Homo sapiens: one gene and its partners. The protein of the gene in region 2 interacts with the protein of the main gene of each other region in a pairwise test. Each region holds a gene or a part of one and is shown on either strand. Other genes may lie near its edges.

Region 1 (7,676 bases), on a different chromosome or scaffold from region 2:
GGAAGCCACAGTGCTGATCCCTGGCCCACCCTCCCCTGGGAGACCAGACTGACCCTGGGTCATTGGTTGGCTAAAGCCTGGGGCCTCAAGTTTGGTATGTGGGGCTCGCTCACTGCCAACGGGTTCTCCTTGAGGATCCCTTTCTTCCTTTCATCTGCTCAGGCCTAACACCCCATACACTGTGTGCGGATAGGGAGGTGACCCCTTTAGCGTCTCAGCAGCACACTCCTGCCTGGACCACCCTCTCCCAGGAAGGTCAGACCCCAGCGGAACCTTTGCCCTGCTTGGGTGGAAGCATGAACAACTAGTACAGCTCAGCAAGGGACTCCCAGTATTGCTGGCCCTTGGGTGTCCCTGGCATTGGGTAGATGACCCCTCATGCCAGGGACTGGCCTCAAGGCTGTTCCTCTCTACTCCAGAGCCTCTGGGCAGTGGGTTGTGGATTTCCTAAGAGCTGACCATTGCTGCGTCAGAGGCTTGCAGCACTGGGTTACTCAACAAGGCCCTGCAGCCTGGTTTGCTATGAAGGAGAAGATGGGGTCTCTCGTCCCTAGCCCCAGTGCACTTAAATGTGCTAGTCCCAGAGGTTGGGAGTCCTGAGTCAGCCTGTGAGGACAGGGCAAGGACAGTAACTGCCTCGGGTCCTGGGAATGTCTGTGGGGAAGAAGAGGCTCTGCTACCCTTGAGATCTGCTGGGTCCTGGTCCCTAAGTGTACCTCTCCACCCATCTCACCCTGAGTCAGGCCCAGGAAAGGGGTATCTTTGGTGTTTCCTGGGCTTCTGAACACCACATTCATCACTACCATTCTCCTCAGTGCTGGCCCAACCCCAAGAGCTGGAGAACAGGCTGGCCCCGGCCACTCTATCTCACTTTCCCTGGCATAAAGGCTTTGACCTTGGGCAACATACCCAGGGCAACCCAGCACCTCGGCAGGCTGGTGATCAATCTTCTCAACTTACAGATCCTGCTGACCATGCCTGCAACCAGGCCTCCCATCTGCTATCTCCCTCAGTGCACACTGTCCTAGGGAGTTGGGTGAATATCTATTATAGTGTGTCCATGTCACAGTTCAGAATCCTGAGGTCCCAGAGCAATTCAAATGCTTCTGGCTCCTTTCAGTGGAAAGCTGCAGCCAGCCTAAATCATCTCCCTGTGCTGGGCCCAGGAAGAGATGACCCTTTAGTATACCATGTTGTTTGAGTAGCCAAGACCTCTGGGAGTAAAGGCCCCTGGCCATATAAGCAATATAGGGGAAGGCGTCCTGAGCTCCTCTTGGGGCCTCTCTGCTACTGGGTGCTCTGCAAGCTGGGTCCCTGTGCCCTGGATCTCTAGAAATGTTTCTCAAATTGGGGCTGCTGAACAGAGGGCAGCCCAGCCAAGTGAGGGCAGGAAGTGGGCAAGAAAGCAGGAAGGGTCTCACAGGGCCACCAGGGAGGGCAGTGCAGGGCAGGTGGCCCATGACAGGTGGGATGCTGGCTTGCCTGCCTGCCACCATCCTCTGTTCCTTCTGGAAGCCATGCCCTGCCATGAGCCATGGCCTTGGTGCTGAGACTGTCCATTCCACCTCCCATTCTCCTCCTCCCTCTGACTGTCACCTTGAGAAGCATCCACCCTGGGGCTTAGGGCAGCTGTGTCTGTGACATGTGGAGCCCTCCTCCTCCTCAGAGGCCCAGGCCAGCCTCCAAGTGCTGAGATAGCCAGCTGCCTGTGGGCACCCAGGTTGCTAAGGTATCTTCCAGGTTCAGCCTCCTCCTCTCCCTCTTATCCTATCACCCTCTCCTTCTATTCCATCCTGCCCACTGGGTCCCTGTGCCAAGCCCTCCACCTCCCTCCTGCCTCCCTCCGAGTCCCTGCATGACTCATACTTTCCCTGGGCCCTCCCTATAAAGTTTGGTTCCACAGGCTCTTTGAAGAGATCCAGCCTCTTCAGCTCTGGGCAGGCAAGAACTAGGCAACCAGGCCATGGGTACCAGGGCCTCTGCCCCCAGCCCGGGAGCCCCTGTGTTGGGGCCAGGATACTATCTGAACATGCTGACAGTCTGGACTTTGGAAGGGGAAAATGGTGCTTCCCTGTGTGGGCTTCTGTGTTTGAGCTGAGGAAACTGAGGCCAGAGAGATGCCGTAATTTATCCAGGGACCCAGAAGGGGCTCATAGCTGAGCTGAAGAGTGTCCCACATCCTCCCCAGTACTCCACACTGGTCCCTGAGTGGCAGCCTTGCTAGGATGGCAGGAATCAGCTGACCACTTATTCCTGGGCCATCAGACCCTTAGAATAGGGACCAGGTGGGCAGTGCTGCCTCTGTGTCTGAAAGTGGACCCACCGTGACCAGTGCCCAGTGCCCACCAAGGCTCAGCCAGGGGTTTCACCAGGGCATGGGGCACTGGCTGAGCATACCACGCCCTCTGTGTCCTCTGCAACACTAGAGCCCTGAGACTAGAGGGGCAGAAAGATGCCAGCTGTCAAAAGCCAGTGATATCCACCAGAACACACTGACCGCCCCCACCCTGTGCCTCTCCTTCTTTGCAGAAGCTACCTGTGCCCTGGGTTCTCTGGGCAGGGAAGGGCTGGACAGGCAGCCCTCAGGGGACAGCCCTGCCTGCCACTTGGGCAGCTGTCAGAGCATGCAGATGTGCCCGATGCCTAGCTGGGGCACTTGGCACAGTTGCCACTGCACCCTGCCTAGGGGTCCCAGCAGCCTCTGGGCGGTGGGTGGAGTGGGGTGCACGGTCACACAGGCTGAGAGGGCCCCCAGGACGCCCCCATCCCACAGTTCCCACTCCAGTCTGCTGTCTTCTCCCAGCTTTTTCCCAGCGCCCCGCCTCCCCCGACCTTACCTAGGGACGCAGCCAGGAAGAGAGCGAAGAGCAGGGATCCCCAGCGCCAGCTGCCGGCCTCCAGGGCCGTGGGGACGCCCATGTCGCCGTCGGACGCGCAGAGGAACTTCTGGTGCCGGGGAGCGGGCGGGACGCGGCCGGCGCGGGGAAGCCTCCCGCGACTGAGTGCGAGCGAGTGAGCGCTGCGGGCGGCCCCAGCGCCGTGCTCCAGGCACCCGCCCCCTTCGCGCAGCGCCCCCGGGGGGCCGTGTGGGGGAACTGCCTCTCCGAGGGCCGCGTGGGAGGGGCTTCCCGGAGGCCGGCCCCGTGGGTGGGGAGCCAGCGTGCGTCCCAGCGAGTCAGCTCCACTTGATCGGCAGTTTAAAGCCCGTTCTACCGTCCCCCAGTCCTTTTGGAGAGAAATTATTATTGCTGCGCAGCCTAAGAAGTAGATCTACCTCTAACAGCGTGATAGACGTTACCATGGCTTGCATCTGCCCTCAGCCACCAGCCTTTGAGTGATCTGGGGACAGAGACTTGTACCCTACATCCTCCAGCCAGACCAGGGCTTGGTATGTGGTAGGCACTCCCAGCTGTGGAATGAGTGAGTAAATGAGTGAATGAATGAAATCTGACATTGTGAAGAGCTAGGCAAGCTGGAGCCAGTTTAACTGTAGATTCAGAGCCTGAGGCACCCTGAGTGCATGCGCGCGCGCACACACACACACACACACACACACACACACACACACAGAACAGGTGCAGGACTACACGCCAAGATCAGCACATCCCTACCCCGGGACACACACAGATATGCAGGCAACACCTGTTGGCGTGCCCCACAGCACATCCTGCAAGCTCCCCTCCGGCAGAGGCCTCAGCTGTCCGCCTGGCTGTGCACCCGCCCTCCCTCCCTGGTGCCTGGATATCTGCAGGACACTCTGATGCACCCTAACTTCTAGTGCCTCTGCTCTTGCACCCACACCCAGCACTGCTGGCACCACTGGAATGTCTCTCCCCTCCTAATTCTTCTCATCCCTCAGGGCTCAGCTCAAGTCCTCCCACTTCACGAAATGTCCTGACCCTTCCTTTTTCCCGGCAAATCCTTACTGTCCACACCCCCTTCAGCTACCACCTCCAGCCTGAGATAACCAGCAGTTGGTTCTTCTTCCGGCTGTTCTGCCCTCCAGAGCGAAACTACAAACCTCTCTCTGATGTTTCTGAGACCCTAGCACAAAGCTGGGCGTGGAGAAGGTTTTACTGCACTTTTATCTGAATGGACAAACCAATGAGTGAGTGAGTGATTGTGTGATGGAGGAGCAGAGGTGATCGTGGCCAGGACCAGGGATCACAGGAGTGGAAGAGCACAGCCATTTTACTCAGTTTACCCCAGTCTAGCTGAAGCTTCCAGGGGTTTTTCTGGCACTTTAGGGATCTTGGGTTAATAGGTGACTCCTAGGCTGAGAGGCAGAGGACACTCAGAGTCTGACTGGGTCAGGAACCAGGGTATCAGGACTCAATGGGAGCCAGGAGTCCTGGGGGCCTTGTGGGTGGCCTGATCCAAGTCACGGGCTCTCTGGAGGCCCTTAGCCCTTGCTCTAAGGGCAGGGAAGGCTACAACAGAGGAAGGCTGAGGCATCATGTTATTACTAAGTGAACTTGTGCAGGCCCAGTCCCCCTGGAGCCAGTGAACTCCCCAGGATGGGAGCCCCAGAGGCTGGCAGGACATAACCCAGGTCCTTGGGCATGCTCCTGGCCTTGTGACCCCACCTTGGAAGGCAGCCCAGGGCCCTTCCTGCTGGCATAGCATGAGCTCCCTTCCACCAGGGGAGGTACAAAGCCAACTGAGATCAGGTGGACACCGGGCCCTTCTCACCCTGACATCCTCTGGCAAGTGAGGGGGGTCCCTTAAGGGCAAGATCCTAGAGCACCACCCCATCTCAACCCTTCCTGGACTGGCTTTGCTCAGGACACCCTTGAAACCAGACTCCCTCTTCCCCAGGGCCTAGCAGCCGGGGAGGGCCTGGAATTAGAGAAAGGGGAGCAATTGCCCTGCCAACCCCTTCCCCAGGGGGATAGAGCCTCTGAGCTGGGCCCAGTTCCCTCCCCCCTTTTCACTTCCTTTCTCCCTACCACACTGCCCACCACTGAGCCTCCTGGGGTTGCATCAGGGTGAGACACAGGCATTGCCCAAGGACCATGGTCCAGAAACCTCAAGCACTGTTTCCTCAACACCAGGGCAGGACAGGAAGGGCTCAGCTGAGAGGGCCTTTGGAGCACTGACTTTCTCCTCCCTCCGAGACCAGAGGAAGTCAAACCCACCTTCCCTCCCCAAGCCCAGACCTGGTCTCAGAGCAGGAGGGGCTCCAAGGCCCAACTCTGTTCAAACTCTCCACTCCCAGCCCCTGCAGCCTGCACACTCCATCATGTGTTTGTGCTTGTTTTCATTAAAAATAGTGGTGAAGGCCCCAAATATTCGAATAAAGATGACTGTCAAGGAAAGCCACCATGTCCATCTTGTGGCTCTGCAGGGCCTGGAGGCAGCTGTGAGTACTCTCTACTGGTGAGGGGCCCAGCCTTGAGCCTTCCTGAGTCCCCTTACTTGCCGGCAAGAATACAAGAGCACCACATTGCAGGAAAGGGGCTGAATTCCAGCCTCCCTGTTGGGGAGGGGATGCTGACATTTCCCACATTCCCAAACTCACCTCCCAAACTCCCTGAGCTAGAAACAACTTTAGAAATCAAGCCAGGTCCTTTATTAAACAGACAGAAAAGGTCCAGAGAGGGGATGTGACCTGCCCAAGGCCACGCAGCTCCTTTTCAAGGCTGCCAACCCTATCTGCTTTGGAAACCGTTTCAGCAAACACCCAATGCCCTCCACCCCCAAGATCCAGAGCTGCATATCAGAGGAATCATTGCCTCCTCAGGGGCAGTGACAGCCTTCTTGGGTCCAGATCCCCTGCCCATCTGTCCATTCTTCCAGTGGTAGCTCCAGAGCCAGCCAGTCCCAAGGAAAAAACCATATGCAAATTGCCTACATTGAGTTGTCTGTACCACCTGCTTTCTGTTCTCTGGCCTGGCAATGGCCTAGTCACGTTCTCTCTACCCAGACACCTTTGCAGTGATTAACACCTTATTATTTTATATTAGTCACTCATTATGATTTGTATTAGTTAGGGTCCTGGCAGGAAACAGATGGCACACTCAGAAAGGGTTCAACTGAAGAGAGTTTAATACAGGGACTGTTTAGGAAGGCTGGTAAAGCACCCAGAGACTAGCACCAACCACAGGAAGCCACTACCACTCACATGTCCAAAGGGAAAGAAGAGGAAGTGATGTTCTGGAGCCCAGTGAAAGCTGGTGCTATGAAAGGGGGACCCCTGTCCCCAAGCAGGAGAAACACAGCCATGGGCAGAACCGCAGTGAGGAATGGAGGGAGTGTGGAAGAAACACCCCCGCCTCTTTCTCCCCACTGCTTTCATCTTCAGCCAGGGCCTCCCATTGGCCACACCCAGCAGGAAGCTGGATAGCAAGGGAGCCAGGGTAAGGCAGTTAGTCCACAGGGGACATCTTCCCAGGTGGAGAAAGGCAGGAAGCAGGAGCAAGAACCATTTCTAGTTGATTCTTGAGTGCTGATTGCCGAGTTCTGATTAGCTGAATATTACTTGTGGTCCAATTGACTCAAGCATTGGCAGAGATGGCCGATCACAGGAGAGTATGTTGTAGAAGCTGTTCTTGGAATGAAGTTATGTTCTGTGAGTCTTATTTTTCACAGGTCAACAAGTTCTGCCCACGAAATTGCCACAAACCCAATGTCCTCCTTCTGGAAATGCTGAAAATATGTATTTCTTTCATTTACATGAACAATAGATGAAGGTTAAATATGGCATTGGGCCGAGTGCCTCACATTCTTGCCTCTTGTAGTCTGGCAGGACATATAGGCTCAATAAGACACAGGCCCTCGTAAAGCTCTGAGCTGGGGTGACTACCAGGGTTCATCCCATATGCCAGTCTTAATCACTAGACCACTGTGCTAACAAGGATCCCAAGTTTGCATCTGGCCTCAGCAGTTCTGTGATTGATTAGTGATGTCTGCTGGGGGTCGCAGACATAGGAGTGGTGGTGCCAGTGCCATCTTGGACAGAGCAGTTACCTTACTTGGCTTTTGGTGGAGTTTTTGAGCTTTCTCTCTCTACCAGCCTGTGACCCACCCCCTGCTTTCTTCTCCTTGCCCTTTCTGTTTGAGTCACATGGAGTGAGTTCAGCCCAGGAGAACAGCCATCTGGATCCACCTTGGTCCCTCTGGCCACCTGACCAAGGACGTGACCCACTCTTTTCCACAGGCCACCACGCACGTGTACGTGACCATTGTGGATGAGAATGATAACGCGCCCATGTTCCAGCAGCCCCACTATGAGGTGCTGCTGGATGAGGGCCCAGACACGCTCAACACCAGCCTCATCACCATCCAGGCACTGGACCTGGATGAGGGTCCCAACGGCACAGTCACCTATGCCATCGTCGCAGGCAACATCGTCAACACCTTCCGCATCGACAGACACATGGTCAGCAGCTGATGGCAGGATCAAGACAAGGGGCGAAACCTATCCAGGGATTGGCAAGGAGTTCAGTGACACTGGAGGGGGATGGAGCAAAGATGCAGTCTAGGGGAAACTGTGGGGGCACTCAGTGTGGGAGGATGAAAAGTTTGGTGGAGTGGAGCCTGGGCTAGGGGGTGGCAGTGGTTCCCCATCACAGCTCCAATGTCAGGGCCTACTTCCCAAATTGGTCAGAGGGTGCTGCAGACCTACCACCCCTAGATCCATCCTTGTCCCTTCCCTGTGTCCCCCAGGGTGTCAT
Region 2 (7,791 bases):
TTTCCAGGCCAGGCGTGGTGGTTCACACCTGTAATCCCAGCACTTTGGGAGGCTGAGGCATGCAGATCGCTTGAGGTCAGGAGTTTGAGACCAGCCTGGCCAACATGGTGAAACACCATCTATAACAAAATATAAAAATTAGCCAGGCGTTGTGGCAAGCACCTGTAATCCCAGCTATTTGGGATGCTGAGGCAGGAGAATTGCTTGAACCCGAGAGGCAGAGGTTGCAGTGAGCCGAGATTGCACCACTGCACTACAGCCTGGGCGACAAGAGACTGTCTCAAAAACAAAATCAAAAAAAAAAAAGAAAGAAAAACAAAAAGTAAATAAAAAAATGAGTTTTTCCAAGCAGTGATTTGGTGCAATCCAAGAAAAAAAATTTATTGTGCATGTTTCAGCCCAACCACTAGGTGATCTCCTACAGGTTTTTTAACTCTAGGGAAACATTCCTTCTATTTCAGGAAGAAAATGACAGATGTTAAATTTTGGCATTTTTCAAAGAGAATATGAGAATAACTCAAGGCGTTTATTATTATTTGCCCCATAGAGAAGCAACAAAATCAGCATTTCCTACACCAAAGCAACAAGAATGGAGGCACAGACCTTCCATGCCAGGATGCCACCGAGCTAATGCCTTCAAACATCATCACACACACAGATACACACACACCCAGGATGCCCGTGCTAATGCCTAAATCTCACACAAACACACACACACACACACACACACACACACACACACACACACAGGTTCTGGCCAGATGCTGCCTGCACTGGCCCTTGGGCCTTCTGCAGTAAGTCAGCATTAAAAAAATAAAGCTGACGCTGGGCACGGTGGGTCACACCTGTAATCTCAGCACTTTGGGAGCCCGAGGCAGGAGGATGGCTTGAGCCCAGAAGACCAGCCTGGGTAACACAGTAAGACATCATCTCTACAAAAAATAAAAAATTAGCCAGGTGTGGTGGTGTGCACCTATAGTCCTAGCTACTCAGGAGACAGGTGGGAGGATCTCTTGTGCTCAGGTTCAAGGCTGTGGTAAGCCATGACTGCATCACAGCACGCCAAGCCTGGGTGACAAAGGACCCTGTTTCTAAAAAAAAGACTGAGAAAATTTTATCAAATGTAAACATTTAAATGGGATCTTTATGATATGATGCTGAGCACCTTTTAAGTGTATTTTGTTAGGGGTGAGCAAGACGGGCTTGTGAGAATGGCACATCCAGGAAGGATAAAGAAGACAACAGCTGTGAAGTCTGGAATGGCTACATGGAGTAGCAGGCTAATTACCAAGTATTAAAAGGTCCTATAACACCAGAGATTGTAAACAGGCAGCCTGTCTGAGTATTGCTGGCCACACAGGTTTCAAAAACCACAGATAGGCCAACACTGTAGTAGATTTTCCTTTCTTCAGGGCAATTAATGGTTACTGCAGAGCTGCGATGACCTCTTCGGTCTTTGGGAAGAGTCTGTACTCTCTGGCCCTGTAGTAGGCTGAATAATGGCCCCCAAAGATAACCACATCCTAATCCCTGGAACCTGTGACTATTACTTTATTTGGCAAAAGGGACTTTGCAGATGTAATTAAGGATTTTGAAATGGGAGATTTTCTGGGTTATCTGGTGGGCCCTGAATGTATGACAAGTGTCTTTATAAAAGCGAAGCAGAGGGAACTCTGACTACAGAAAGGGAGGCAATGTGATGACCCGAAGCAGAGATTGAAGTGACGTGAACACAAGCCAAGGAACATTGGCAGCCACCAGAAAATGGAAGAGGCAAGAACCAGATTCTCCCCTGGAGCCCTCAGAAGGAGTGAGCCCTGCCTTGATTTGAGCACTGTAAGATTTCATTGTGAACTTCTGGCCTCCAGAACTGTAAACAAATAAATCTGTTAAATCACTACATTTGTGGTAACTACAACAGCAATATGAAAACTAACCCACCCTGTATATGTTTGAGCTTATAATTTAACTCAACTCTCTCAACAGTTGAGGAGGATATAGAGCCCTGACCTGCCCAAGTCACCTCCAGTTCTTGGAAGAACCAAGTCCCCAGACTGCAACTTGCTACACGCTACCTACGCTTTTCCCATGCAAAAGGAGGTCAGAGGTCTTCCAGTTGTGTTTGGTTCTAGAAGCAAACAAAAAAGAGTGACTTATGGGAGTGGTAGAACATTCTTGAGCCGTGGCCTTTTTGGGAGAGTTAGGCCCCTTGAAAAGTCGATGGAAGCTATATTCTCCTTGCAGGAAACAAAAGGCACACACACTTGCACCCATTTTTGGGAGTTCATGACCCTCAGGTAAAGAACCCCTCCTCGGCAGATAAAAAGCATTTAAGGAAAAACAGACGCAAAATAAAATCTTCGGGTAGACAAGTCAGTCCTGCCTACAGTTATAGATAAGATGGAGAAACAAAACTGAGGACAGGAATTCCATGGAAGAAGGTCACAGGGTCCAGATACGAGAAAAAAACCTCAACGAACCGGGAAACTAAAACTATAGCTTTGAAGAAAAAAACAAAGCATTAAAGCAGAGTTTGGGGTTGAAAGAATGCTCTCCAACAACCAGGAAATCGGGATTTTCACCTTTATTTTTACTCAGGAGATCATTGTTACTCGAACCCAATATTGAAGAGCCAATCTGAAAAGATGGCAATTTACTCCTGAGCTCTGGAAGTTGCTGGAACCTGATCTCGAAGCAGTGACGATCTGTGAACGCCCCAGCTGCACCAACCAAGGTGCTAAACCTTCAGACAGGTCTATTTCTACTCGGATTTTTTCTTTGGGATCAGACTGGTATTTTAAAGCCCTTCCAAACAAACAAACAAAAAACCAGAAGCTTAAAGCAAACCTAACATGTGACTTTGGACACCACTTCATCCAGACTACTTCCCTCAGACACTGACAACCGGCCAGAGGTGGAATCGCGGGAAACCTTAAACCCAGGGAAGAAGTGACTTTAAAGGAAACAAAGCGTTCGCCCCCGCCGCTTGGGAGAAGGGGCTGGGATAGAGACAAAGCCCGAGGAAAACACCGAACTAAAGTTGGGTTAGGAGCGGGGGAGGCATGGGCAGGACCCGAGAGAGGCAACTGGAACCCAGAGTGCGCGAGCGCGGAGGAGGTGAAGGCCCTGTGGACGCAGCGCCGGGAGAGCCTCAGCGGGCCGGGATAAGAGGGGCGCCCCTCACCTCGACTGGGTAGAGCTCGCGCGGCAGCACCGCCTGCAGGTCCATGAACAGGGTGATGGGGATGTGGCTGAGGAAGTAGAGGCCCAGCAGCCACTCCACGCAGCGCCTGGTTGCCGGAGCCCCCATAGTCTGTCGGTTGGGCCTGGACCCGCTGATGTGAGAAGAGGGGCCAAATCCGCGCGCCTTCCCAGACCCACGCGCCTCGGTCGCCGCCTTGCCCCCGCGAGGGCTAGGCAGACCGCTTCCATTGGCTGGCGAGAAGAGGAGGCTCGTGGACAGGGGGCGGCACTCCCCACAGGGCGCACCCATTGGTCCGTATAAGTATAGCGCGTGGAGAAGGCGTCTCGTAAGCCATTTCCATTGGCCGCCAGGAGCGCCGTGTGGGCGGGGCTTAGTCACGCCGTTCGGCGCGCGGCTACTCAGTGTAGATTGCGGTTGTGAGCGCGAGCCTAGCGTTTCGGTGCTGGCCGCGTGGTATCCTGGTGTCCCGGCAGCTGCCGGCGGCGCTCCCTTCCCTCGTGGCTCCGTTCGCCACTACAACAGCAGTATGAAAACTGCACTGGCCCTTGGGCCTTCTGCAGTAAGTCAGCATTAAAAAAATAAAGCTGACGCTGTGCACGGTGGGTCATGCCTGTAATGTCTGCACTTTGGGAGCCCGAGGCAGGAGGATGGCTTGAGCCCAGAAGACCAGCCTGGGTAACTTAGTAAGACATTATCTCTACAAAAAATAAAAAATTAGCCAGGTGTGGTGGTGTGCACCTGTAGTCCTAGCTAGTTCGTGTACTAGTGACCAGCGCCTGTGCTGGGCCGCGGTACCCCGGTGCAGTGCGGCCGTCACGGAGCAGGGGTCGCAGAGCGGGGCACGAGCGCCGCGGTGCAGGTTCCCGGCCCAGCCGGGGTTGCGGGTCTGGGGAGGCAGCTGGCCGCGGTGAACAAAGAAGCAGAGGGGAGGACTCGAGGGACGTAGGAGGCAGTAAAATGGACAGGAATCCTCACCGGCTGTGGAGCATGAGGGAAGGTCAAGGATTCGTTTACACGTTCAGCAAATACTGATGTTCATCTCCACGCTGGGCGCAGGCCTGTCTCGGGGCAGGATCGCCGAGGCTGCCATTTGCTAAGAGGGGACACAGGGCAAGGGAGTGCGAGGAAGGAATGCAGCTTGGACTACGTGGACCTTGAGTGGGCTGCAGCGTTGGGTGGAGGAGGCAGTTGGGTGAGCCTGTCTGGAGTCGTAAGCTTGTGAGGCATCCGCCTTTGATGGCGAGCAGAGGGCCTGGGAGAGATCCTGGGGGAGCTCCAGCCTCAGGTCATGGGAGGAGGGGACTGAGATAGGAGCGTACTAGCAGGGGGCTATGTCACAGGGAGGGGCAGCCTGTCAACACTGAGTGATGCCCGCCTGTGGCCCTGTGGGGAACAGTTGTGTCGTGGGGGCAGGAGCCAGGGAGTAAGAAAGTGGGGAAATGGAGGCAGGAAGTGTAGACAGCTGGTCACGAAGGGGAGAAGACATGGGGCAGTAGCTGGAGAGAGATGCACTCGAGAGTTTATTTTGCAGGTGAGAAAGACTTGAGCTAGTTTAGTTTTGACAGTGGGAGAGGTTACCCCTACTCGAGAAGAGCAGGAAATGCGGCTCAAAGCCCTGGAGGAGGCGGAGGGAATGGAAGGATTGGGGTGGGTTAGGTGGGTGCACTGCGCTCCGCCCAGCTTCCCCTTCCCTTGGGGCGCTGTGGGCTAGGACAGAGGGATTATGGCAGTGTTGAAGGCCCAGCTGAGGTGGGGGGCCGCTGACCCGGAGGCCCCAATCTCTTAGGCTGTGTGCTTTGCATTTCTCTAGTGCGGGGTCTACCCAGAAGAAGGCTGTTGGACCCCTACAGAGTTTGGGTTCAGAAAAGCGAAAGGTGGCTTTGAAGAGCTGAAGAAGAGTGATTGAGGTGCAGAAGGTTGCAGTTCAAGCTAGGTAGGGGGAGAGGGAGAGGTGAGGCCAAAGGGGGCTGTAAGACAGGGAGACAGTGGAGGCCTGCTGAGGAACACGTGCCAGCGTGATGGGAGTCACTGGGCCGGAAGGGTGGGAGCTTATGAGGAGGGCGTGCAATACCTGAATTCCTGGGGTCAGGAAGAGGTTCTGCCCGTGGGAGTGTGCGGCTGAAATGGAGTGGAGGGGAAGGTCTTTGGAGATGAGGTCAAGGGAAGGCCACCCAGGGTGGTGGTGGCGAAAATGCCACTGCACACGGGGGAGTAACCAGAAGGAAGGTGAGCATGGGATGAGAGTGGAGGGGAAACTGTGTGGACATGGCCTTGCGGAGGGAGGAGGCCGCTTATCCTGACCTTGAAGGGTGCGAGAAGGTGAATAGCCTGCGCTGGAGAGGGCTGTGGGGAAGCTGAGTCCTCAGCCAAGTGCCAGTTACTGGGGGAGGTAACAGTGGAGGGGTTTGGCTGGAGAGGAGGAGGAGCAGGTTGGAAGGAGACAGTAGGAGAAATGTGGAGGTCTTTGGGTGGGGAGCAGGGGATGAACAGCATGGGTGGCTGAGCATCGTGAGGGCACACAGTTCTGGCGTCCCCCAAGTCTCAGGTCAGCCTTGCCCAGGACCACAGAGCCGGCAGCCACAGGGAGGCAGGGGTGTTCAGGGCTGTTTGTCCTGCTCCGAGGGGGGAGCCGGGCTCCATGGAGAGAACACTCTACCAGGGGCTCAGGAGGGAGGACTCAGAATTAGCTGCTGCTTTTTTTCCAGGAAAAAAAAAAAAAGTCAATGCCTGGGAAACCTTAGGTCACCTGAGGAGAGAGCCCATTTTGTTCACACCATAAATCTTTAAAGGCAGTTTGCTCTTTCTCAGACTCCACTCTGTTCCCAGACTAACTACTCCTGTTAGTCACTTAGTAGCCATCTTGGTTATCAAATTGACCATTGAGTTATCACGGTGCTTGTGTTCAAGTAAGCCTTATGTTATTTAATAGTGGGCCAGGTGTGGTGGCTCATACCTGTAATCACTTTGGGAGGCCGAGGCAGGAGGACCCCTTGAGGCCAGGAGTTTAAGACCAGCCTGGGCAACATAGCAAGACCCCATCTCTTAAAAAAAAATTAGCTGGGCATGGTGGCTTGCCTGTAGTCCCAGCTACTTAGGAGGCTGAGGTGGGAGGATCTCTTGAGCCCAGGAGTTTGAGGCAGCAGTGAGCTGTGATCACCTCACTGCACTCCAGCCTCCACAACAGTGAGACCCCTCTCAAAGGCCCTAAAGTGCAATGGTAGCGATGTGACAATTCGGATATGCCAATGAGAAACCATAAAGTTCCTTTATGTGAAAAGGTGAAGATTTTTGATTTAGGAAATAATGCTGAGGTTGCTAAGATCTAGAGAACAGTAAGATATTTTGAGAGAGAGCACATTCACATACTATTTATTACAGTATATTGTTATACTTGTTCTATTTTATTGTTAATGTCTTACTGTGCTTGATTTATAAATTAAACTTTATCATAGGTTTGTATGTATAGGAAAAAACAATATGGTTCAGTACTACCTATGGTTTCAGGCCTCCACTGGGGGTCTTGGAACATGTTCCCCCACGGATAAGGGGGACTTTTGTATACAGCTCCTCTCTCACTTCTCCAAACCATTCACTTGAATGAGAACATGAAGGCTGGGCGCAATGGTTCACACGTGTAATCCCAGCAGAGGCCAAGGCAGGTGGATTACCTGAGGTCAGGAGTTCCAGACCAGCCTCACCAACATGGTGAAACCCAAACTCTACTAAAAGTACAAAAGTTAGCCAGGCATGGTGGTGCACACCTACAGTCCCCGCTACTCAGGAGACTGAGGCAGGAGAATCACTTGAACCTAGGAGGCAGAGGTTGCAGAGTCATGATAGCACCATTGCACTCCAGCCTGGGCGACAGAACAAAACTCTGTCTCAGAAAAAAAAAAAAGGCTGGGCATGGTGACTCAGGACTGTAATCCCAGCACTTTAGGAGGCTGAGGTGGGTGGATCACCTGAGGTCAGGAGTTCAAGACTGGCCTGGCCAACATGGTGAAAATCCATCTCTACTAAAAATACAAAAATTAGCCAGGCATAGTGGCGTGCACCTGTAGTCCTAGCTACATGGGAAGCTGAGGCAGGAGAATCACTTGAACCTGGGAGGTGGAGGTTGCAATGAGCCAGGATCGCACCACTGCACTCTAGCCTGAGTGACAGAGTGAGACTCCGTCTCAAAAAAAAAAAAAAAAAAATGGAACATGAAGAGCTGGGAGGGCCTTTGTAGATATCTAGGGCCTAACACCTCATGAGGAAACTGAGACTCAGAGAGGTGTTTGTCCGAGGTCACAAAGTGAGTGACAAGGCAGGGACTGGAACCCTGGTATCCTAACGCCCAGCCCCAGGCCAAGTCTTCTATCCCTAGGGCAGAGCAGTGCCTTCCCGCACAGGGTCTTCAGACCAAACCCAGGGCCCAGGAGAGGTCTGGCTAGGTTGGCACACTACACAGCTGGAGAGGCCTGGCAGCACTGCTCCCACCCTCCATCCATTATGGCTTTAAGGATATGGTGGTACCATATCCTTTTAATTTACCTTGGGGTGGGTTAGGTGTGTGCTCTGCGCTCCACCCAGCTTCCCCTTCC
Region 3 (7,000 bases), on a different chromosome or scaffold from region 2:
AAAAAAATTATTTTCTGGCTAAAAAGGGCTATTTCAAAAGCAATTTCTCAGAATCAAATTTGAAAGATAATCATAAACTCTTAGAAGAGTAAATCTGCCTTTTCTACCATTTCCTTCTTCCTCAAATACCTGATGAATGAATCCCATTTAAAACGTTAAAAAGAACACACTCCTGCCTCTAGTGAGCTTACAAAATACTCACAGTAAAACTAATCCTAAGCCTGTTTAAGCCTTTAAAAGAAAAGGGTAATCTAGATAGCGAAACATCATGTTTTAAAAACTGTTAATGTCCTTTATATGTAACCCAAATATTTTTCTCTTACCTTTCCTGTGGTCTGTCCATAAAGCCCAAATATCTCACGGAGTTTTTCTTCACTGATTGCATCTGTTCTGTCAATTTTGTTACCCAAGATAAGGATTGGCACATTGGATATTGTTTCATCAGTCATTAAAGCCTAAAGATTGAAAAAAAAGAAAAAAAGAAAAAAAAGAATTAAGTGAGGAATCTACAAAAGCCCACCAGATAATGAAAATTCTGACTTCCACTAATCTTTTAAGGCATTAATGTAAAGTGAAAATCTGATCAACTTTATACCTGAGTGATTAAAGATTCACCTTGACATTACATAACACCCATGACATTAAGTAAAAATCTCCTAAGTGCCTCGAAACAGTTGCAACTTTATTCTATTTATTTACAAGGCAGCAGAACTGCCCCAATATTAACTTTTGAGCTAATCTGCTCAGCCACAAACTATCCTCAGGATGTCCCTCAGCAAAGTCCTATAAGAATGAATGCTCTGGCTACAGAGCCTCAAAGATGACTACAGGAATTCCCCAAGTATTCACCAAGTCCCATTGTGTGCGAAGAACTCTCTCAGGCATTGAGAGGAATAAAGTAGGAAGGGTAACTATCTCAGGCACTGAGGATACAAAAGGAAGCACATTCCTGTCCTCAAAAAAATCCTCACTCTATGTTCACATTATGTTTTTTTTCTTTTTTCTTAATCTCAGCTCACTGCAACCTGTGACTTCCAGGTTCAAGCGATTCTCCCACCTCAGCCTCCTGAGTAGCTGGGACTACAGGCATGTGCTACCACGCCTGGCTAATTTTTGTATTTTTTTAGTAGAGATGGAGTTTTACCATGTTGGCCAGGCTGGTCTCAAACTCCTGCCCCTCAAGTAATCTGCCAACCTCAGCATCCCAAAATGCTGGAATTACAGGCATGAGCCACCACGCCCAGCCACATTTATGTTAACAAAGCCAAGTAAGAACACAATATAGTGGATAAGTGTCACAATGAATGGGAACTGAATATTAACATTAAGACAAGTTCAGGGAAATAAAATGGCAATTTTGGGCTTGAGCAAAGTCTTAGAAAAGATCTGGAACCTAAACAGGGCTCTAAAGGAAGGGCAGGGTTTGGATAGGTGTAAAGGAGAAGTAAGAACATAAACAACGGCTTTGCATTAGGACAATAATTCAGGAAGCCACACAGTACTGCATGGCTGGATTCAAGCATTTAGATAGACATGCAGCGACAAAGTAAATGGATGAGAAGAGATGACTCACATTAGGGGCCAGTGTGAGAAGTGAGCTGCAATATATCCTAAAAGACCACAAATCCAGAAGTTAGTGAATAAAATCTTATTTTTCAGTATAATGAATTCACAAATAGTATCTATCTGTGGTGTTCATGTAAGAGATCATGATCTAGCTTAAGGTAGAGCATTCAATGAATACTGCAGGAGGCATTTTGAAGAAAGAATTGAAGAGACCAATGTCTAAATGATTAAAAAAAAAATTTAAAAAAGACAAATGAGTCAAAACTGCCACTGATTTCAAGCCTGGGAATCTAGTTGTCACCAATAGGAAAGCTAGCGGGGAAAGCAGAGTTAAAGAGATAAAGAGGAATGTACTTTGACCATCTGGAATTCCAGGAAATGTTACACAAAATTAGAATAAGAATGTCCTTCATTCATTAAGCAACAACAAAGTACCTAATGTGTCTAATGCTTTGCTAGGTGCAGGGGTTTTGCAAAGAAATAAGACACAGTCCCTATCATGTTAGTTCATAGTCTGATGAGAGAGAACTATAAAAAAATCAATAAAGACAACAGACATTGGTAAGGTGGGAGTCTAACACAGTCTCAGAGGTCAAGGGAGGCTTACCAGAAGCAGTCATATCTGAACTCTGAGGTCTCTTATAGAACATTTTAAAATTTGCCGACAAAGCGAGGGGTTGAGGAGAGGTACAGGTGAAAAAGCCAGGCAGTAGCTACTTGTGCATATTCAAGGATGGCTAAGTTGTTTGTTTGGAATATAGTTCAAGGTAGGCAGTAAAAAGAAACAGAGGGAGGATCATGAATGATCCTATGTGCTATGCAAAAGATTTATAGATTTTATCCTGAAAATGATAGAGAACTATCAAAGGATATTAAGTAGGGCAATTAAGTCTGAGAAAGTTCCTTCTAGCATTATGGTGCATATCAGGGTCATGGTAGGATTTATATTAATTCACAGATTTGTGGACTGCATGTCCAGGTAGGTGGTGGGTGGGAAAGACAAATAGTTCCATTCTAGGAAAACAGAATCAGTAGTAGGAGTTGTCGAGAGTAGGCAGGATTAGGTATGAGATTAGAGCTCAGGAGAGGTCTAGAGGAGAGAAATGCATTTGAGAGTCACTGACATGTAGGTGCCAAATGAAGGGAGTAGATGGGACCAGCCTAGGAGAAAGTACTCTGGAGAACACCAACATTTAAGGACTAACCAGAAGAACTAGTGCTTCTCAAAGAGACAGAAGTATCAGCCAGAGAGGTAGCTCCAAAATCAAGAGTGAAAAGAGGAGTTTAAACAAAGAGAATGGAGACCATGCATGGTGGCTCATGCCTGTAATCCCAGCACCTCATGAGGCCGAGGCAGAGGATCACCTGAAGCCAGGAGACTGAGACAAGCCTGGGCAACATAATGAGACCCTGTCTCTACAAAAACACTTTTTTAAAAAAAATTAGCTGGGTGTGGTGGTGTATGCCTGTAGTCCTAGCTACTTGGGAGGCTGAGGCAGGAATATCGCTTGAGCCCAGAAGTCTGGAGGTTACAGTGAGCCGTGATTGCACCATTGGACTCCAGCCTGGGCCACAGAGGAAGATTCTGTTTAAAAAAAAAAAAAAAAAGCAAGGTAAAGACTGCGTGGCAGGCAATTCTACATGAGGCTGGAGCTATAGATGTGAGAAACATACTTAGAAATAAATTCAAGACAGGTTCAAGTTGCCAGAAACAAGAATGCAAGGAGTTATAAATCAAAGAGAAAGAAGAGATATAGGGTAAAGGAGTAGGGATAACAAAGCCAATAGTATAGAAACCATCAAGCCATGAGAAAATGCAATGTTGACAAAGGAGAAAACTTGAAGTGAGTCCTTAATAGTATCAAAGGATGTATGCAACCAAAACTGAAGACTGAGAACAGACCATGAAGGTCTGGCAAGTCATTCAGTGGGAGGGTGGGTAGGCACAAGCTGAGAATGCAGATTCAAAAATGTAAAGAACTCTAATATCGCTTTTAGGCTTTCACTATGCCAACACTACTTATAAAGAATTACTGTTCATGGGCCAGGCGCGGTGGCTCATGCCTGTAATCCCAGCACTTTGGGAGGCCAAGGCGGGTGGATCATGAGGTCAGGAGATCAAGACCAACCTGACTAACATGGTGAAACTCCGTCGCTACTAAAAATACAAAAAACTAGCCGGGCGTGGTGGCACGTGCCTGTAGTCCCAGCTACTCGGGAGGCTGAAGCAGAAGAATCCCTCGAACCCAGGAGGTGGAGGTTGCAGTAAGCCAAGATTGCGCCACTGCACTCCAACCTGGGCAACAGAGCAAGACTCCGTCAAAAAAAAAAAAAAAAAAAAAAAAAAAACAGAATTACTGTTCATGACACGTGAAACAGAATACTATTAATTATGCTGGGACAACAGGCATAAATGAGGAGTATCCTGAGCAAACTTGGCCATATAATCACTGTATGATAGAAACAACAGTTAATTTATTTAAGTTTGAGCTGAGTTTCCTCAGGACATTGAAAAGCAATGTCTTAGATTTAAAACATTTTCCTCCTGCAACTAGGTCTTTTTGCCAAATGTTAACTGGAATGACTAATTATTGGCACTACTGAGCTATATTCCTTAAAAAAAAATAGAGGCCAAAAAAGAACAAAATATACATTAAAATACACATTAAAGGACAAAACATACATTAAGCTCAACTTTGGATTCCACGAGGCGAGAATGATCTGCACAGTCCACCAGAAAGACAATCCCATTAATTGCTGGGAGATAATTTTTCCAAACGCGACGTGCTAAAAAACAAAGTTTGTAGTTGCATGAGTAAAAAATATACATTGTGAAAATGAATAACCTAATGGTCTATAAAATGGACAAATCTTGGTCGGGTTTCAGTAAGATTAGACTCTATGGATTTCTCCAAGTTCTGGCCAGTATTAATTCAGAACAGAGGATGCAAACTGATGGTCCATGAGCTGAACCTGATTTTTGTAAATTTGAAAATCAGAGTTTCCGCTTTTTTTGAAAAACTGCAACATCTGGCAATCCCATGCCTACTTATCCACGTGACAATTATCAGCAGGAACTAAGCAGTGGCTGCCCCTTCAGATGATGTCTGAACACTTTTGCTTGACAAAATTTCCCTGCTGTCTTACAGTCAGCCAATTTTACTCACTTAAATGACTTGCCTTGCCCCTGGGGCCAAGTCTAGTTTGCAACCTCTGAGTTAAAACATCAGGATACAAATTACTTGTCCATGTAACTTTAGTCCCAGTTAGTTTCTAGCCAACTTGTGTGTAGGCGTCTTGACACATTCCTCTGCTCAGCCCTTAGGGAGACTAGGCCTGACAAGTGGTTCAAGGCCCCAGGCCAGTTATCTCAACCTACCATATTTAACCCAGCATGCCTTATAAATATTACTTGGTTTTTTGCTTGTGACATGAAACGATAAAGGCTGGGAAGCAGTGATTTAATTGTACTATCATTTCTAAGCCATTAATTTCTAGCCCTTGCAATAGAATGAATAACGAACCATCTCTACATCAGTTAATAATGGTTACCTTTAAAGAGTGGAGCTAGGAAAAAGAGGTTGAAGGAACTTTCCATTTTACTTTCCGTAGTTCTATACTGATTTTGTTACATCGAACTTGCTCTCCTTTTATAAGTTAAAATTTTTAAGTTATACAAAAAAAAAAAAAGGAAACCTCCAGATGTACAGTACTTTAGTAACTTTTATAAAATGGTGGCTAGGTTATTATGTAAAAGTGTTTTTGTTAAGTAGATTTTCCTCAGTCAAATAAACAAAACTAATTACATCAATACATTTCCCTTCTTACTTTTAACAAAACCTGAAACCTAAATTTATCACACCAAACAATCTACAATTCCCAGTTCAGGTATATAAAACCATCTGGCGTCTGGTCCTTCTACATTCTCCAGATGGTCTAGGTTCAGTCTTATCTTGCTCTGAATTTAAATTTGTAAGCAGTTACAAATCCTTTTGTGGAAGCAGCAGAAAGGACACCATATACCCATTCTTACCCAAATGAAAAAAATACAAGCTCCTTACAGAAAAAAAGGAAACAAAATCATTTCTAATCCCTCTATCAAAACACACCCCTTGTCAATATTTTGATATTTTCTTCCAGCCTCTTTTCTTTACTGGTATTTTATGTGATTATGATCATAATATACATGATTTTTCAGGGCATAAATATTAAATAAATTAATTAAAATGTAATTATATGTTAATGAAATCACTGACTATAAAATTATTAGGCTTAACAACTAGAAATGACCAATGTTATATTTTACTATACATTTTTTAAAAACTGTATTAGGCTGGGCACAGTGGCTCACGCCCATAATCCCAGCACTTTGGGAGGCTGAGGCAGGTGGATCACCTGAGCTCAGGAGTTGAAGACCAGCCTGGGCAACATGGCGGAAACCCAGTCTCTACAAAAAACAGGTGGGAGGATTGCTTGAGCCCAGGAAGTAGAGGTTGCAGTATGCCAAAATTGTGCCACTGCACTCCAGCCTGGGCAACAGAGCAAGACCCCATCTCAAAAAAAAGAAAAAAACGGTATTAGCTCAACCTAATGTTTCAAAACAAGACTTCTCCACTCAGTGTAATAACAAGTAAGTAAATCTGACAGAATCTCAATAGTTCCTTTTCCCTACTTTCCCAGAATATTTATTCTCACATCTTAAATGTTTTACTCCTATACCTACGGTCTTGTCAAATGTGAACTGAGTGCCCATCAGACAAAGATGACACTCTGTATGTCTCTAAACACCTGATAGGAATCTGGAAACCAAAGACATAGCCTGAGTAGGCAAAAAGCACTTCTGAGGAAAGCAAAAAGGTAGAAGGAAATGTTCCACCAACTGTCTGAAATGGATAGAATATACAAAATATCAACTTGTATCAGAGTAATCACACATAGTCACTGTATTACTTTTGCAACTTTTGACAAGTCTGAAATTACTTATAAATATTTAATTTCCTACATACTTTCACTCCATTGAATAAAGGATGCAAAAATGACTTCATAACTAGATATATGATACCGTATACCTGGTCAAGATGAAAAAAATGGTATAAAAGAGATTATCAGGACAACTGACCAAAAAAAAAAGGAAATACAGAGTGGATAAAAATAAAACTTCCTGGATTTGATAACTATTATGATTATATACAAGGAAATATCTTTGTTCTTAGAAAATGGCACTAAAGTATTAAAGAGTAAAGGGGCATGATATGCTCACCAACACTTCATTAAAAACAAGCATTAATATGTATTATATAAAGAAGAGGCACTAAAGTATTAAAGAGTAAAGGGGCATGATATGCTCACAAACAGTTCATAAAAAATAAGCATTAATATGTATTATGTAGGGAGGAGGAGACTAACAAATTTGAGCAAAAGGTATAGAAGAAAA

Evidence for each region. Proteins that work in one complex are often made in the same cells at the same time.
Region 1: the proteins of TMEM97 (region 2) and VSIR interact in binary tests that used the Homo sapiens proteins (3 or more experiments, as listed by UniProt).
Region 3: the proteins of TMEM97 (region 2) and SAR1A interact in binary tests that used the Homo sapiens proteins (3 or more experiments, as listed by UniProt).

Annotation. Positions count from the first base shown.
Region 1 is NC_000010.11:71,770,521-71,778,196, forward strand, and holds the start of VSIR (V-type immunoglobulin domain-containing suppressor of T-cell activation precursor), read right to left. Parts: upstream 3,001-7,676; 5' UTR 2,920-3,000; coding exon 2,838-2,919; intron 1-2,837. Other genes in the region: CDH23 (cadherin-23 isoform 1 precursor), read left to right, coding at 7,160-7,381, 7,669-7,676.
Region 2 is NC_000017.11:28,314,759-28,322,549, reverse strand, and holds the start of TMEM97 (sigma intracellular receptor 2), read right to left. Parts: upstream 3,351-7,791; 5' UTR 3,311-3,350; coding exon 3,185-3,310; intron 1-3,184. UniProt on the Homo sapiens protein: Sigma-2 receptor which contributes to ameliorate dysfunctional cellular processes and slow degenerative progression by regulating cell functions including cholesterol biosynthesis/trafficking, membrane trafficking, autophagy, lipid membrane-bound protein trafficking, and receptor stabilization at the cell surface.
Region 3 is NC_000010.11:70,153,515-70,160,514, forward strand, and holds part of SAR1A (small COPII coat GTPase SAR1A), read right to left. Parts: intron 4,354-7,000; coding exon 4,250-4,353; intron 456-4,249; coding exon 324-455; intron 1-323. UniProt on the Homo sapiens protein: Small GTPase that cycles between an active GTP-bound and an inactive GDP-bound state and mainly functions in vesicle-mediated endoplasmic reticulum (ER) to Golgi transport.